Regions from separate parts of the Homo sapiens genome. Here region 2 is linked to region 1. The links come from fine-mapping of genetic effects on gene expression. Tissue or cell type: whole blood. Region 1 holds a variant in brackets; the other region holds the start of a gene. All regions are shown on one strand. Distances are from middle to middle.

Region 1 (8,079 bases):
AACAAAGACCTCCTGAGAGGGGGACAGAGACCCAGAGAGAGGAGGGGACAGAGAAAACGAGAGAGAAAGGGCGCGCTGAACAGACCTGCATAGAGAATCAGGAAAAACAAAAAAGGCTCAGGTATCATCACATAGGTACAGAATCTTAGAAGATCTTGGTGAGAGTTGAGCGAGATACTTAGAAACAGGCGGAGGCCGGGTGCAGTGGCTTATGCCTGTAATCCCAGCACTTTGGGAGGCCGAGGCGGGTGGATCACATGAGGTCGGGAGTTCGAGACCAGCCTGACCAACATGGAGAAATCTGTCTCTCCTAAAAATACAAAATTAGACGGGCGTGGTGGTGCGTGCCTGTAATCCCAGGTACTCGACAGGCTGAGGCAGGAGAATCGCTTGAACCCGAGAGGCAGAGGTTGCGTTGAGCCAAGTTAGCGCCATTGCACTCCAGTCTGGGCAACAAGAGTGAAACCCCATCTCAAAAAAAAAAAAGAGCTAGAAACAGATACTCATCGAACAGAAATTTCCAAGAATAAACCAAGAAATGTGAAGACTCCAGGGATCCCCAGAAGGCTGGAGAAATCGTAGCTGTCCACTGTTTTAGCACTTACCAGACCCAGCGCTGTCATACGCACCTTTGATACCATCCAAAGCCATCTGTGACTATAAACAAATTAAGGTTCGGAATAGGAAAATGATTTGTCCAAAGATACACCACCAAAAGCGAGGCCACCAGGAATTGGAACTGAGTTCTGTCTGGTGCCGAAGTTCATGGCAGAGCTGTCTGTTTCTTTAGAGAGACCCGGGTTAGAAACAAAAAGAGAGAAGCGGGGGAGGAAGTCACAGGTGGGCACTGAGGATGGAGAGATGGCTGCCTTCTGCAGAGGTGCAGAGACAGCCTGGCAGCGAGAAACAAGAAAGTACGGAGACGCTGAGCCCCACTGACCTGTCTTTTTGTTGTTCTAGGAACAACCTGTCCCTGCCGTCATCTGGGACCGAGCCATGGCCCCCTGCGCCTCTCCCAGCCCCTCCACCCTTGCTCCTGAACTCCACAGACCCCACCCACCTGGGGCTCCCGGAGAGCGTGGCCTCTGTCACCGTGCCCATACGCCTGGACACCCTCTCCTGCCTCCTGCACAGCGCCCTGCTGGGGGCCTACACCTTCCAACAGGCCTTGCCCTCTTGCCCCTGCTGCTCCCAGGCAGGCCACTCCCAGCCGGGGGCAGTTAGGAGGCCTCCCAGGGGACGCGGAGGCTGGGAAGTCAGGCACAGGCCAGGCTGGGGCCGAGGCCTGCATCGACGGGGCCTTGGGAGAGCTGAGCAGCCAGAGAGGGGCCGGGCGGGGGGCCCTGGGGCTGGCCCCAGGACCCCACCAATGACACTGCCATCACCACCAACACTGCCTGCCCAGGATGGGAAGAAAGAAGCTCGAGGTCCAGAGCCACCCCTGGAAACACCACTGGCTGCTGAGGACTGGGAGACAGAGTACTAGGACCTTGGAGGGTCAGGCACCTGAGATTGCAGTCACCCAGGAGGGTTTTCCTGGGGCCCAGAGTGATCTCAGCCCTGTCAGAAGAACCCCAAGAAACATCTTCCATCCTCCCCTCTCCCCAAAACCACAATCCCAGGAGTAGCTCCTGTGAGGCACTTGGTGAACCTGACCTAAGTCACCTGAATCCCAAGTGAGAAGAAAATCCTAAACCTCGTACCCAAACCTGTCTCCTTGATGGCCTCAACCCCATTCCCAATGCCATCCCCAACCACAACCACAATCCTTACCTCATTCTCAACCCCCAGGGCTCCTCCAACCCCATTCCCTATCCTCTCCCTAATCCCAAAGCCACTCCTACCTGCCTCTCTCTTCCCCACTCTCAATACCCTGTTCCCAAACCCATTCATTCCCATCCCTGTCACCAGTCCCAGCTCCACTTCTGCGCCTCAACCCTAACCCACCCTCTTTACCAACCCCTTTCTCCTCATTGCCTGTGTACCTCAGCCCATCTTTAATGTCCTCTGAATCTACAGCCCCAAAGAGCTCCATCCTCAACCTCAGCCACAGCCCTGTGTCCATCCCCACAAAGAACCGCATTGGCCCCACATACCCAGACACCTGTGACTCCCCACCCCACTGCCTGCTCTTCAGGTAGAAAGCCCTGGTTGAACAATAAACGCATGACTCTCCCTGAATCTTGCGTGTGTGCGCGCGCCCGTGTGTGTGTGTGTGTGTGCGTGTGTGCGTGCTTACACAGCTCGGACAAAGCCAGGGTTGCTTTGAGCAAGGCTGGCGACAAGGTATTGGGTTCCGGGGAGGGTCACAGAGGTCAGTGAGTGGGTGGGGGGAGCCCCCTGGATGCCTGCTTCAGCGAATTCCATTTGAGGCCTCTGCCACCGCTGCATTTCTGCCTGCTGGAAGCTGCTGGGTAGTGGGACCATTGTGTAGGGAGGCTTAAGGGATTTGGGGAACCTAAGGGGGCAAAGAGGCCAGTGACCAGGCTCAGCTCAGTCTGCACAGAGGGGCCGTGGCAGAAGGAGGGCTCGGGCAGGCTCTGCCACTCAGGTAGGCACCAGGCGTGAGACCTGTAGCCCCCTCTTCCCCAAGTCCCAGGAGTCTAGGGTCCCAGCTCCTTCTTCTCCCAGGACCTGGTGTCCTACCCCCTAGCCCCTAGCCCCTTCCTTACCCACCACCCAGGAATCCAGGCTCCTGGGCCCCTTCTCACCTAGGACTCAGGAAGCTAGGCCTCCAGCCTATTCCTTGCTCAGAACCTGGAAGTCCAGGCCCCCGGCCTTTTCTTCCCAGAACCCAGCCCCGCTCTCCCTGTTGTCTTTCCAGGATCCCTACCATCCTCCTCCCTCAGACCCAGGAGTCCGGGCTCCAGTCCCCTCCTCGCCCAGGACCCAGGCGTCTAGGTCTCCATCTCCTTCTCCCAAGCACTTGGCATCCCACTCCTGAGCCCTCTCTCCCCCCAGTTCCTCCCTTCAAGTCCCGGGAATTCAGCTCCCAATCCCATCTCTCCCCTTCCCCACAGATCACCATGTACAGCTTCATGGGTGGTGGCCTGTTCTGTGCCTGGGTGGGGACCATCCTCCTGGTGGTGGCCATGGCAACAGACCACTGGATGCAGTACCGGCTGTCAGGGTCCTTCGCCCACCAGGGCCTGTGGCGGTACTGCCTGGGCAACAAGTGCTACCTGCAGACAGACAGCATCGGTGAGCCCCCCGGCCAGGGTCCAGGCCGCGCCTGGGGAAAGAGCAGGGCGGACCTCGGGGCCCAAGGACACCTGTATTCCAGATGGAGAACTCTGCGGCTCAAAGAGGGAAAGGGAGCAACCCAAGGTCACTCAGCATGGAGGGGGCAGAACTGGGACTACAGGGTTGTTTTCTAGCTGCAGTTTCACGGGGTGCTGGTTTGAAGGTTAAGTTGGGAGAGGTGGCATTTCC[T/C]GACGCTTCAGAGGTGTCATGCACAGCAATTGGGGCTAGTGTCACGAAACAGCATTTTCTAAATATGTACTATGGACCAAGAACTATGTTAGGTACTGGTGGATACTGAATTTGCTAAATACTGCATAAAGTAGCATAAAGTATTTTTGCCTACTTATAATGTGCCAGGCCATAGATAGAGAGATACATAGAGATATATAGTATATTGCTTGCTGCATAGCATCTATAATATATTAAGTTAATGTATACTATATTATGTGTAATATATGCAATTTATATTATTACATATAATTTATGATGTATTATATATAACTACATATAGACAATAATATACAGTATAGTGTATTATACATGCACCTCTATTATATAATAAATTACTAATACATAATATATTGTATATAATATGCTACATATTATATAAGTAATGCACATGTAATATATTATATATGATGTAGAATCCATTATATTACACATTCATTATCTAATAAATAGTATATGTCATGACATTATATAATAAATTAATAATGTATATATTATACAATATATTATATAATAAATTAATAATGTAGAGTATATTATATTGCACACTTATTATATAACATATTAATAAATTTGGCCAGGCGTGGTGGCTCACGTCTGTAATCCCAGCACTTCGGGAGGCTGAGGTGGGCGGATCACCTGAGGTCAGGAGTTCAAGATTAGCCTGGCAAAAAAGGTGAAACCCGGTCTCTACTAAAAATACAAAAATTAGCCAGGCATGGTGGTGAGCACCTGTAATCCCAGCTACTCAGGAGGCTGAGGCAGGAAAATCGCTTGAACCTGGGAGGCGGAGACTGCAGTGGGCCCAGATGGCACCACTGCACTCCAGCCTGGACAACAGACGAAGACTCTGTCTAAAAAATAAATAAAAATTAATTAATAATATATAATATATTGTGTATTACTACTAGTAACAGTAATAATAATAACTGGCATTGATTGAGTGCTTACTATGCCCTATGTGCTATTCTAAGCACTTTACATGGATAAACTCACTTCCATCCCCAACAACACTACGGGCAGTTCAATTGTATGTAAGAGTGAGACATGAGATTTGATCTCAAAATTCAAACATCCTCTTGAGTAGCTGAGAAGAAGAGCTAAGCGTCACTGAGTGCCGGACGTGACAGGCATGGGAGACTTCGCCCACTCATCTCTCCCGGAGCCAGCCCTGAGAGAGAGGCAGGACGATGCCTGTTTGCTGGAGAGGTAGACTGAGGCAGGGAGAAGTGAAAAGACTTGCCTTGGGCCATCAGCTTCAGAGTCCGCTCTGCCTGACTCCACACATCCTTCTCCTTTCTGGCTGTCTCATTTGTGACACTTCTACATTTCTCCTGCTTCGGGCTGGGAATTCCCCGAGGGACAGCCCTGAGCCACCTCTCTGTCTTATCTCTGCCAGGGATGCAGGAGACAGGGAGCCTTGGTGAAGGTCTTTCGTTTTTTCGTTTGTTTGTTTTTGTTTTGTTTTGTTTTGTTTCAGACAGAGTCTCGCTCTGTCACCCCTGCCAGAGTGCAATGGCACTATCTCGGCTCACTGTAACCTCTGCCTCCTGGGTTCAAGCAATTCTCCTTGCCTCAGCCTCCCGAGTAGCTGGGATTACAGGCGCCCAAAACCATGCCTGGCTAATTTTTGTATTTTAGTAGAGACAGGATTTGACCATGTTGGCCAGGCTGGTCTCGAACTCCTGACCTCAGGTGATCCACCCGCCTCGGCCTCCCAAAGTGCTGGGATTATAGGCATGAGCCACCGAACTTGGCCTCATTATTTCATTTGATTTGATTTTTGTAGAGACAGCATCTCACTGTATTGCCCAGGCTTGTTTCAAACTCCCGGCTTCAGATGGACGTGGTGGCTCAGCCTGGAATCCCAGCACTTCGGGAGGCTGAGGTAGGAGGATCACTTGAGCCTAGGTGTTTGAGACCAGCCTGTGCAACGTAAGGAGACCCCATCTCAACAAAAAATAAAAAATTAGCTGGGCGTGGTGGTGTGCTCCCGTGGCCCCAGCTGCTCAGAAGGCTGAAGTGGGAGGATCACTTGAGCCCAGAAGTTTAAGGCTGCAGTGAGCTAAGATAGAGCCACTGCACTCCAGCCTGGGTGACAGAGCAAGACCCTGTCTCAAAAAATAATAATAAGATAAAATAAATAATCAAAAAGAAACCCTCCTGGCCTCAAGCAATCCTCCTGCCTCGGCCTCCCAAAGTGCTGGGATTCCAGGCCTGAGCCGCTGTGACCAGCCTGAATTAGTGTGCTAGGGATGCCATAAAAAAGCCCCACAGACTGGGTGGCTTGAACAACAGAAACGTGTTGTCTCACAGTTCTGGAGGCCGAGATGAAGATGTGGGCAAAATCAGTTCCTTCTGAGGGCTGTGAGGGAGAATCTGTTCCATGTCCCTCCCTCCCTGGCTTCTGGTGATTTTCTGGGAATCTTTGGTGTTTCTTGGTTTGGAGATGCATCACCCCAATTTCTACCTTCCTCACACATGGCATTTTTCCTAAAAGCATGTCTGTGTCCAGATTCCTCTTTTTATAAGGACGGCAGTCTTTGTTTTATGTTTTGTTTTGTTTTTGAGTTGGAGTCTCGCTCTGCCACCCAGGCTGGAGGGCAGTGGAATGATCTTGGCTCACTGCAACCTCCACCTCCCGGGTTCAAGTGATTCTCCTGCCTCAGCCTCCTGAGTAGCTGGGATTACAGGTGCCCACCACCAAGCCTGGCTAATTTTTGTATTTTTAGTAGAGACAGGGTTTCTCCATTTTGGCTAGGCTGGTCTCAAACTCCTGACCTCAGGTGATCCACCTGCCTTGGCTTCCCAAAGTGCTGGGATTACACTGGGCAGGAGCCACCACACCCAGCCCAGTCTTTGGATTAGAGCCCCACCCTACTCTAGCATGATCTCGTCTTAACTAATTATATTTGCAAAGACTCTATTGCCAAATAAGTTACCATTCTAAGGCACTAGTTACAATTTCAACATAAACATTTGAGGCGGGGGACAGAAAGGCATAACCCATAAAATCCATGGAGAAACAGCCAGGAATTTCTCTCACCGAGGCTTCTACAAGGCAGAAGACTGGGTTTTACAAAGATCCTAGACTTTTTACTTTTCAATGGCAAGATGCAAGGTTTGAGGTGCACCATTTCCCAGGTGCTCCAGCAGACAGAATAGCCAAGCAGTTAGGAGCGTGGGCCTTGGAGCTTGGATTCTGACTCCAGCCCTGTTTCTAATTATGAGACTTCGGGCAAGTCACTTTACCTCTCTGGGCCTCCATTTCTTCACTTGAAAAAGAAGCATAAAAATGGTACTTATAGAGTAGGGCTCTGGAGGAATAAACAACATCACACCTGGGTAGCGAGCCTGGCATATAGTTAGCCGTTGCTAAAGGATGAAGAGATTATTATTATCTTTCCTGAGGGGCCATCCCTGGGCAAAGCACAAGAGAAGAATGGCCCCGGTGCTCAACATTAATTCATTTCACGCATTTATTGGGCACCTATTATGCACCAGGTGTAGGTGCTGGGGACACAGTGGTGAATGAGAAAGCAAGGTGCTTGTCCTTGAGAGCTAAGGATTTACTGAGGAGAGACAGACATTATAAATAAGTTAAAAACAAGTAAATAGGACATTTTCAGATATAAGCAAGTAGTATAAAATAAATGAAAGAGTAGGCTGGGCGCAGTGGCTCACACCTGTAATCTCAGCACTTTGGGAGGCCAAGGCAGGTGGATCACTTGGGGCCAGGAGTTTGAGACCAGCCTGGCCAACATGGCAAAATGCCGTCTCTACTAAAAATACAAAAATTATCCGGGCATGGTGGTGCGCACCTGTAGTCCCAGCTACTCGGGACCCTGAGGAAGGAGAATCGTTTGAACCTCAGAGGTGGAGGCTGCAGTGAGCTGAGATTGTGCCACAGCACTTCAGCCTGGGTGGCAGAGGAAGACTCGGTCTCAAAAAAAAAAAAAAAAAAAAAAAAAGAAAAGAAAAAAAAAGAAATGTGAGAGAGAATAGTAATTAGTAGGAAAATATAAGGAATCAGCATTCATTCATTCATTCATTCAACAAACATTTCCCAAGGCCAGAATGCAAACCAAATGTGTGGTGGGGGTGTTTATGACACAGAACCAACCCACCGCCTGTCTTCAAGGAGCAATCAGGCTGGAGGGGGAGACAGACAAAGAGAGTCACAACCCTTAGCCGTGGGTGAAGATGATGACTGAGGGGTGGGGAGATGCTTCCTAGAGGATGGGTCACGGGAGCTGTGCTTTGGAGGATGAGTAGGAGTTTGCCAGGTGAAGAAGAGGGCATTTGCAAAGAAGGGAAGGATGAGCTGGGTTAGGGATATGGAAAGGGGCAAGGCATTTTCATCTCAGAGGTAGCAGCATCTCTCACTTAGAGCAGGGGAGGTGTGGGAATGACCATGGGGTGCTCCCACAGCATACTGGAATGCCACCCGGGCCTTCATGATCCTGTCTGCCCTATGCGCCATCTCCGGCATCATCATGGGCATCATGGCCTTCGCTCATCAGCCTACCTTCTCCCGCATCTCCCGGCCCTTCTCTGCTGGCATCATGTTTTTTTCCTCAAGTGAGTAAGCCCACCCTCTCCCTACCC
Region 2 (8,079 bases), 29 kb before region 1:
AAACTCTGTCTCAGCAAGGTGCAGTGGCTCACGCCTGTAATCCCAGCTCTTTGGGAGGCTGAGGCGGGTGGATCACCTGAGGTCAGGAGTTCGAGACCAGCCTGAACAACATGAAGAAACCCCATCTTTTCTAAAAATACAAAATCAGCCAGGCATGGTGGCGCATGTCTGTAGTCCCAGCTACTTGGGAGGCTGAGGCAGGAGAATCGCTTGAACCCCGGAGGTGGAGGTTGCAGTGAGCCAAGATCATGCTACTGCACTCCAGCCTGGGCAACAAGAGGGAAACTCCATCTCAAAAAACAAAAACAAACAAACAAACAAACACCTCTGTCTCTACAAAAATTATCAAAAAAAAAAATCAAAAATTATCTGGGCGTGGTGGTGTGTGCCTATAGTCCCGGCTAGTTGGGAGGCTGAGGTGGGAGGATCGCTTGAGCCCAGAAGATGGAGGCTGCACTGAGCCATGATCACACCACTGCACTCCAGCCTGGGCAACAGAGCAAGACCTTGTCTCAAAAACAAAAAACAAAAATGCCATGGATGAAAGAACCAGGACAGGGCAGAGGCTGGGTCATCTCCTCCAGGAGGCCTCTCCTGACTTCCCTCCACCAGGAAGAGCTGACCACTCCTTCCCCAGGTCCCATCCTGAATGTCTGTCCAGCATCCAGTTCATTTAGGGGACCTTCTGTACTTTGTTTCTAAGAATCTTCATTTGCTAACCTGGGGCCCTGGAGCTGACTCACCATGGAGGATTCACCTCCAAGTCCCCCTAAAGCTCAGTGCTTGATACCCAAGGTATGTGGAGGTTGAAGGATGAGTTCTGTGTTTCGGTGTGACCCAAACAGAGTCATTTCAGGAAGAGCTCAGTGAGGGGAAAACATCTTGTAGAGTTTACTCCATTCATTGCAAATTACCCCTTCCCTAGTCTGTTCCCCCCACTCTGCCCCTCACTCCCGCCTTCCTCAAACTCTTCCCATCAGCATTAGCTTTGGACATATGTGTTCTAATCCCAATGGGTGTCCCAATTGAATGACAGAGGAGGAAGGGAGACTGGGAAGTGGACTAGGGCCTGGTTGGGGCAGGAGACTGCTTCTGGGGACCAAGGGTCAGTGAGCTCACCAGGAAGCATGAAGAGGTGGAGCTGACACCACCCTACGGTGGCCAGATTTAGAAAAAAAGAAATTCAACATGCTCAGTTAAATTTGAATTTTAGGCCAGGTGCGGTGGTTCACACCTGTAATCTCAGCACTTTGGGAGGTCAAGGCAGGTGGATCATTTGAGGTCAGGAGTTCAAAACCAGCCCTGCCAACATGGTGAAACCCCACCTCTACTAAAAATACAAAAATTAGCTTGGCGTGGTGGCGCGTGCCTGTAAGCCCAGACTCAGGAGGCTGAGGCAGGAGAATCACTTCAGCCTGGGAGGTGGAGGTTGCAGTAAGCAGAGATTGCACCACTGCACTGCAGCCTGGGTGACAGAGTGAGACTCTGTCTCAAAATATAATTAATTAATTAATTAATTTGAATTTCAGATAAATTTATTTTGCTTTCTGGTATAAGTATATCCCATGCAGCATTTCGGACATACTTATACCAAAAAACATAAAATAAAATACTTTATATTGTCTGTGAAAGCTTTAACCAGGCATCCTGCATTTTACCTGACAAGACCAGCCCCCTCCAGTAACGGTCCCTTCCCCTGTACCCACCACCTCCACCACCAGTGGCCCAGATAAGGGTAGCTCACTGTGGACTTCTCACTTCTGCTTTTCCGATGACCCAGGGCCCAGAGGGAGAGCCCCCACCCCACTACCCCACCCCCAGCCAGGCCCCCAGGATAGACACAAGCCTGCCCTCTCCTCCTACACAGGGAGCTCTGGAAGGACCAGCTCAACAAGCCCAAGGCCAGGCTGGGCCCCCAGGAGACCCAGAGGACAACTGGGCAAGGTGGGCCGGAGAGTGTGGGGGAAGGCAAAGGAGTTCTGTGAGCTCAGCGTCTGAAGCTCATTTCATGCATCAGGCCCCAGGGCTCAGCTTCCGCCTTCGGCTTCCCCTTCTGCCAAGAGCCCTGAGCCACTCACAGCACGACCAGAGAACAGGCCTGTCTCAGGCAGGCCCTGCGCCTCCTATGCGGAGATGCTACTGCCACTGCTGCTGTCCTCGCTGCTGGGCGGTGAGTGGGCCAAGGGCCGGAAAGGACCTGGGGCGGAGCTAGGGCTGGGGTTGCAGGTTGAGCCTCTGTCTCCCCACAGGGTCCCAGGCTATGGATGGGAGATTCTGGATACGAGTGCAGGAGTCAGTGATGGTGCCGGAGGGCCTGTGCATCTCTGTGCCCTGCTCTTTCTCCTACCCCCGACAGGACTGGACAGGGTCTACCCCAGCTTATGGCTACTGGTTCAAAGCAGTGACTGAGACAACCAAGGGTGCTCCTGTGGCCACAAACCACCAGAGTCGAGAGGTGGAAATGAGCACCCGGGGCCGATTCCAGCTCACTGGGGATCCCGCCAAGGGGAACTGCTCCTTGGTGATCAGAGACGCGCAGATGCAGGATGAGTCACAGTACTTCTTTCGGGTGGAGAGAGGAAGCTATGTGAGATATAATTTCATGAACGATGGGTTCTTTCTAAAAGTAACAGGTATGGAATGGGGTGGGAACCCCTGCCTCTCACACTGGGGAGGGACCCTGGGGACAGCCTATGGGCTGAGCAGAGAGGGCTCTCAGGGACCCCTGCAGCACAAGAATCTCCCACCACGGTCTCTGTCCCAGCCCTGACTCAGAAGCCTGATGTCTACATCCCCGAGACCCTGGAGCCCGGGCAGCCGGTGACGGTCATCTGTGTGTTTAACTGGGCCTTTGAGGAATGTCCACCCCCTTCTTTCTCCTGGACGGGGGCTGCCCTCTCCTCCCAAGGAACCAAACCAACGACCTCCCACTTCTCAGTGCTCAGCTTCACGCCCAGACCCCAGGACCACAACACCGACCTCACCTGCCATGTGGACTTCTCCAGAAAGGGTGTGAGCGCACAGAGGACCGTCCGACTCCGTGTGGCCTGTGAGTGTGGCCTGGGAGGGTGGGGTGTGCAGACAGCCCCGGTGGGTGGGGAGGTGGAGGAGCCCAGTGGGACAGTGAGCGGCTCCCAGCTCAGGAGCATCCAGGGAGAGGAAGCTGTGGGGTCCCAGGATGCCGCCGCAGCCCTGGGAGGGGGATGGGAATGGCGTCTGGTCCACACACGTGAGCCCTGGCGCTGGTTGTCACTTGTCTTCCCGGGATAGTCCCACTTTCTTTTCCCTGAGGGAGTTTTTTCCAGGTGTGAGGAATAAATTGTCCCTCCCTGAAGCCAGCTCACAATCTTGTTGCAGATGCCCCCAGAGACCTTGTTATCAGCATTTCACGTGACAACACGCCAGGTACTGAGGGCCGTCGGGCTGGGGCTGGGCCAGTTGTCTTTAGATGAAAAGGCTTCAGGGGATGAGGGGATGTGCTCCTCCCTGTACCCCTTCTCTCTTTCTCCCTCCCTTTCTCTCTTTTTTTTTTTTCCTCCCACTCCAGCCCTGGAGCCCCAGCCCCAGGGAAATGTCCCATACCTGGAAGCCCAAAAAGGCCAGTTCCTGCGGCTCCTCTGTGCTGCTGACAGCCAGCCCCCTGCCACACTGAGCTGGGTCCTGCAGAACAGAGTCCTCTCCTCGTCCCATCCCTGGGGCCCTAGACCCCTGGGGCTGGAGCTGCCCGGGGTGAAGGCTGGGGATTCAGGGCGCTACACCTGCCGAGCGGAGAACAGGCTTGGCTCCCAGCAGCGAGCCCTGGACCTCTCTGTGCAGTGTGAGTGTGCCCAGCAGGGGCCTGGAGTCCATTGGGAGGGCAGAGGGATACAGGGGCTGGGCTCAGGGTCCCAGAGCTGAGGGGGCCTGGAGCCCCAGGCCTCGGAGACCGACCTTCTTACCTGTGTAGACCCTCATGCAGTTTGTGTCTGGGACTCAGTGGGTGATTCTGCCCTGCCCTTCTATCCCACCCACTTCCCCCACCTCAGTGTCCAGGATGGTTCCCTTTACCCAGAGGGAAGCCCCTGGTCCGTCTAGAGCCGGTCCCCTGTCTCCATTTCAGATCCTCCAGAGAACCTGAGAGTGATGGTTTCCCAAGCAAACAGGACAGGTAGGAAAGGGGACAGAGGAGCCAAGGCCTCTCAGTGCCGAATTGGGGGCCCAGGAGTCTGGAGGGTCCCCACGCAGGAGGGTCCCTGAGCCCTGAGCTGCTCATCGATTCTGCCTCTTCCTTCCCTAGTCCTGGAAAACCTTGGGAACGGCACGTCTCTCCCAGTACTGGAGGGCCAAAGCCTGTGCCTGGTCTGTGTCACACACAGCAGCCCCCCAGCCAGGCTGAGCTGGACCCAGAGGGGACAGGTTCTGAGCCCCTCCCAGCCCTCAGACCCCGGGGTCCTGGAGCTGCCTCGGGTTCAAGTGGAGCACGAAGGAGAGTTCACCTGCCACGCTCGGCACCCACTGGGCTCCCAGCACGTCTCTCTCAGCCTCTCCGTGCACTGTGAGTGGGGGAAAGGGGACACCTGGGTCCCAGGAAGGGGACCCTGCTGAGTCCTGTCCTCCCTCCCCTCAGACTCCCCGAAGCTGCTGGGCCCCTCCTGCTCCTGGGAGGCTGAGGGTCTGCACTGCAGCTGCTCCTCCCAGGCCAGCCCGGCCCCCTCTCTGCGCTGGTGGCTTGGGGAGGAGCTGCTGGAGGGGAACAGCAGCCAGGACTCCTTCGAGGTCACCCCCAGCTCAGCCGGGCCCTGGGCCAACAGCTCCCTGAGCCTCCATGGAGGGCTCAGCTCCGGCCTCAGGCTCCGCTGTGAGGCCTGGAACGTCCATGGGGCCCAGAGTGGATCCATCCTGCAGCTGCCAGGTTAGGGGGCCGCCTGGATGCCAAGGTTCTTGGAGGAGAAGCTGACTGGGGCAAAGAGTAGGGTCCTGTGGTTGGAGCAGGAGCTTGGAGGGACACAGCAGACCCGTGGCATCTGTATGTAGACAGGAAAACACAATGGGAAGTCCTAACACCTGGGCCGGGGTGTGGCAGGGTTTCCTAAAAGTAAACAGAGGGGTTGCAGATACAATGTCCGCCATGGGAACCGGAAGCCTTAATGCCGAGTGATGAGCGGGCTTCGTGAGCCCTGCGTGGATGGGAAATGCTCACCTTGCCCTCTCCGTGTGCAGATAAGAAGGGACTCATCTCAACGGCATTCTCCAACGGAGCGTTTCTGGGAATCGGCATCACGGCTCTTCTTTTCCTCTGCCTGGCCCTGATCATGTAGGTTAAGAGGAGGCGTGGCGGGGTCTGGGGCCTGGACCCAGGAAGAGGGGAGGTGTTGCAGGCCGAAAGAGTGAAGGTCGTGATCAACGCAGTATACCTCTGGAGGTTACATGAGTAAACAGCAAACTGTTCTCATAAATGCAGAATGTTGTCCAACTGACAAACTGCGTCTGCTTCCCAGAGGGAATGCTGAGGGCAGTCACGCCCCAAGCGAAGTGTTTCTTGTAATTAGGCACAGCTGAAGCTTGTTAGTAATAATATGAACCTGTGATCAATTAAACAGCTGACCAATTGTTACCTCCTGCTCTCTGCTCTTTCTACCCAATAAATACAAAGGGCTGTAGAGGCTCAGACAGCTGCCCTGGCTCACTAGTAGCAGGGAACCCTCTTCTTCTTCCCCTGACCCCTTCCTTTAAAATAATTTCTTTTGTCTTAAGTTTTCATTTCTACGTTTGTCCTCCTTCTTTCAGTCTCATAATGACGGTCTCAAGTGGTAACAGTAGTAACTGTCATAGTGACGGTCTCAGGTAGTAAACGTGGCAGTCTGTCACAGGGAGGTGCAGCAGGGCACAAACAGGTGGGTTCATTTCCTCAGCATGAAGATTCTACCGAAGAGACGGACTCAGACAGAAACCCCGAGGCCCAGGTTCTCCCGGCACAGCACGATCCTGGATTACATCAATGTGGTCCCGACGGCTGGCCCCCTGGTGAGTGTCTGGGCCATGCTTCCACTTTTTCTCTTCTCTAAAGCTGACATCCCACTTTCTGACTTTTGCACCCCTTGTCTTAGCGACATCAAGGTGGGAAAAGCACCGATAGTTCTGAATTCAAATCCTGCCTGGCACTTACTAGCTATGAGACCTCAGCCACGTCACTCACCCCCTCTGAGCCTTCATTTCTTCCTCTGTCTCCTTTGAGAGTTGGTTTGAGGATTAGAATACATGCACTTTCTCAATCTGTAGCCATTGTTCCATTATTACTGCCACCATTGACATGACTACACTTAACTGCTTAACAATTATGTGTATCATCGGGAGGCTGGGCATCCTAGGGATTCAGCACAGGGGGTCTGAAATCAGCCTGCATGGGTTCAAATCCTGCTGTCATCACTGTGTCATGAAACAAGTGTCTTAACTTCTCTGTGCCTCAATTTCTTTAGCTGTAACATGGAGACAATACTAGCGGCCACCTCCTAGGATGATGCTGGGTGTTAAATATATTGTACTTGCATAATAAAATATTCAGAATATCACCTGGCCCCTGGGTAATACTCTGTAAATTCTGGAAATTATTAAGAGATAACATCTTATGCTGATGACTGCAAAATTGTATCTCGTGGCTCCTTCCCTGAAGACTGTCTATGCAACATCTCCATGTGGGTGTCTAATCAGCACTTCAAACTTAGCCTGTCCAAAACCAACTTAAGATAATTCCCCAGCCTGAGCAACATAGTGAGACCTCTTCTCTACAAAAAAAATAAAAAATTAGCCGGGTGTGGTGGTGCATGCCCATTGTCCCAGCTACTTGGGAGGCTGAGGTGGGAGGATCTCTTGAGCCTGGGAGTTGGAGGCTACAGTGAGCCATGATGACACCATGCACTCCAGCCTGGGTGACAGAGTGAGACCCTGTCTCAAAAAAAAAAAGGCCACGCCTGCTGGCTCACACCTGTAATCCCAGCACTTTGGGAGGCCGAGGTGGGTGGATCGCCTGAGGTCAAAATTTTAAGAGCAGCGTGTTCAACATGGTGAAACCCCATCTCTACTAAACATACAAAAAATTACCTGGGCATGGTGATGGGTGCCTGTAATCACAGCTACTCGGGAGGCTGAGGCAGGAGAATTACTTGAACCCAGGAGGTGGAGGTTGCAGTGAGATCATGCCACTGCACTCCAGCCTGGGCAACAAGAGCGAAACTTCATCTAAAAAAAAAAAAAGACTAATTCCACCATTTATGCTCCATCTCTATCCCCATCTTAGCAAATAACACCACATTTTCCCAGCCAAGTCTAAAGCTTTAGAATCATATTTCACTCCTCTCTTCTCTGTCACCCCACAACCAATCCATCAGCAAATTCCCTTCAAAATACAACCAAGCCAGTTCTCCCTACTCTTCCCTCACTACTACAAGCCATGCATCAACACCCCCCACCCCACCCCGGGCACCACTGGCCCCTTCTGCATGCCTTCTCTGCTTCCGTTCTCACCCCCTCCAGTCTTTCTCTCCGTGCATGCATGCTATTCTTTATTTTATTTATTTTTATTTTATTTTATTTTTTGAGATGGGATTTCACTGTTGTTGTCTAGGCTGGAGTGCAGTGGCAAGGTCTCGGCTCACTGCAACCTCCACCTCCTGGTTCAAGCGATTCATCTGCCTCAGCCTCCTGAGTAGCTGGGATTACAGGCATCCACCACCATGCCCCCCTAATTTTTGTATTTTTAGTAGAGACGGGGTTTCACCATGTTGATCAGGCTGGTCTCAAACTCCTGACCTCAGGTGATCCACCCGCCTCAGCCTCCCAAAGTGCTGGGATTACAGGTGTGAACCACCGTACCCGGCTATCAATTATTTTTTTGAAACAGATTTTGTCTCTGTTGTCCGGGCTGGAGTGCAGTGGCGCAGTCTCAGCGCACTACAACCTCCACCTCTCAGGTTCAAGTGATTTTCCTGCCTCAGCCTCCTGAGTAGCTGGGACCACAGGCATGTGTCACCACGCCCGGCTAATTTTTGTATTTGTGGTAGAGACAGGGTTTCGCTATGTTGGCCAGGCCGGTCTTGAAATTCC

What was found. PIP is the estimated chance that this variant, and not a neighbour inherited with it, causes the effect.
Region 2: SIGLEC10-AS1 starts here. The variant in region 1 is fine-mapped to the expression of SIGLEC10-AS1 in whole blood (TOPMed, PIP above 0.99).

Annotation. Positions count from the first base shown.
Region 1 is chr19:51,382,391-51,390,469 of GRCh38, reverse strand. LIM2 (lens intrinsic membrane protein 2) reads left to right here and starts at 2,496. Exons shown (of 5, transcript NM_001161748.2): 1 at 2,496-2,551; 2 at 3,021-3,201; 3 at 7,903-8,052. The coding sequence starts at 3,027. C19orf84 (chromosome 19 open reading frame 84) reads left to right here. Exons shown (of 2, transcript NM_001193623.2): 2 at 961-2,181. The coding sequence ends at 1,486. LIM2-AS1 (LIM2 and SIGLEC10 antisense RNA 1) reads right to left here and starts at 3,362. Exons shown (of 2, transcript XR_002958397.2): 1 at 3,273-3,362; 2 at 3,099-3,182. The variant T/C (reference allele first, on the strand shown) is at 3,433.
Region 2 is chr19:51,411,636-51,419,714 of GRCh38, reverse strand. SIGLEC10-AS1 (SIGLEC10 antisense RNA 1) reads right to left here and starts at 3,991. Exons shown (of 3, transcript NR_164125.1): 1 at 3,583-3,991; 2 at 2,985-3,286; 3 at 1,518-2,583. SIGLEC10 (sialic acid binding Ig like lectin 10) reads left to right here and starts at 2,073. Exons shown (of 11, transcript NM_033130.5): 1 at 2,073-2,170; 2 at 2,250-2,633; 3 at 2,765-3,049; 4 at 3,358-3,405; 5 at 3,548-3,817; 6 at 4,100-4,147; 7 at 4,277-4,534; 8 at 4,607-4,891; 9 at 5,200-5,293; 10 at 5,892-6,003. The coding sequence starts at 2,134. RefSeq lists enhancers at 1,844-1,913, 1,974-2,143.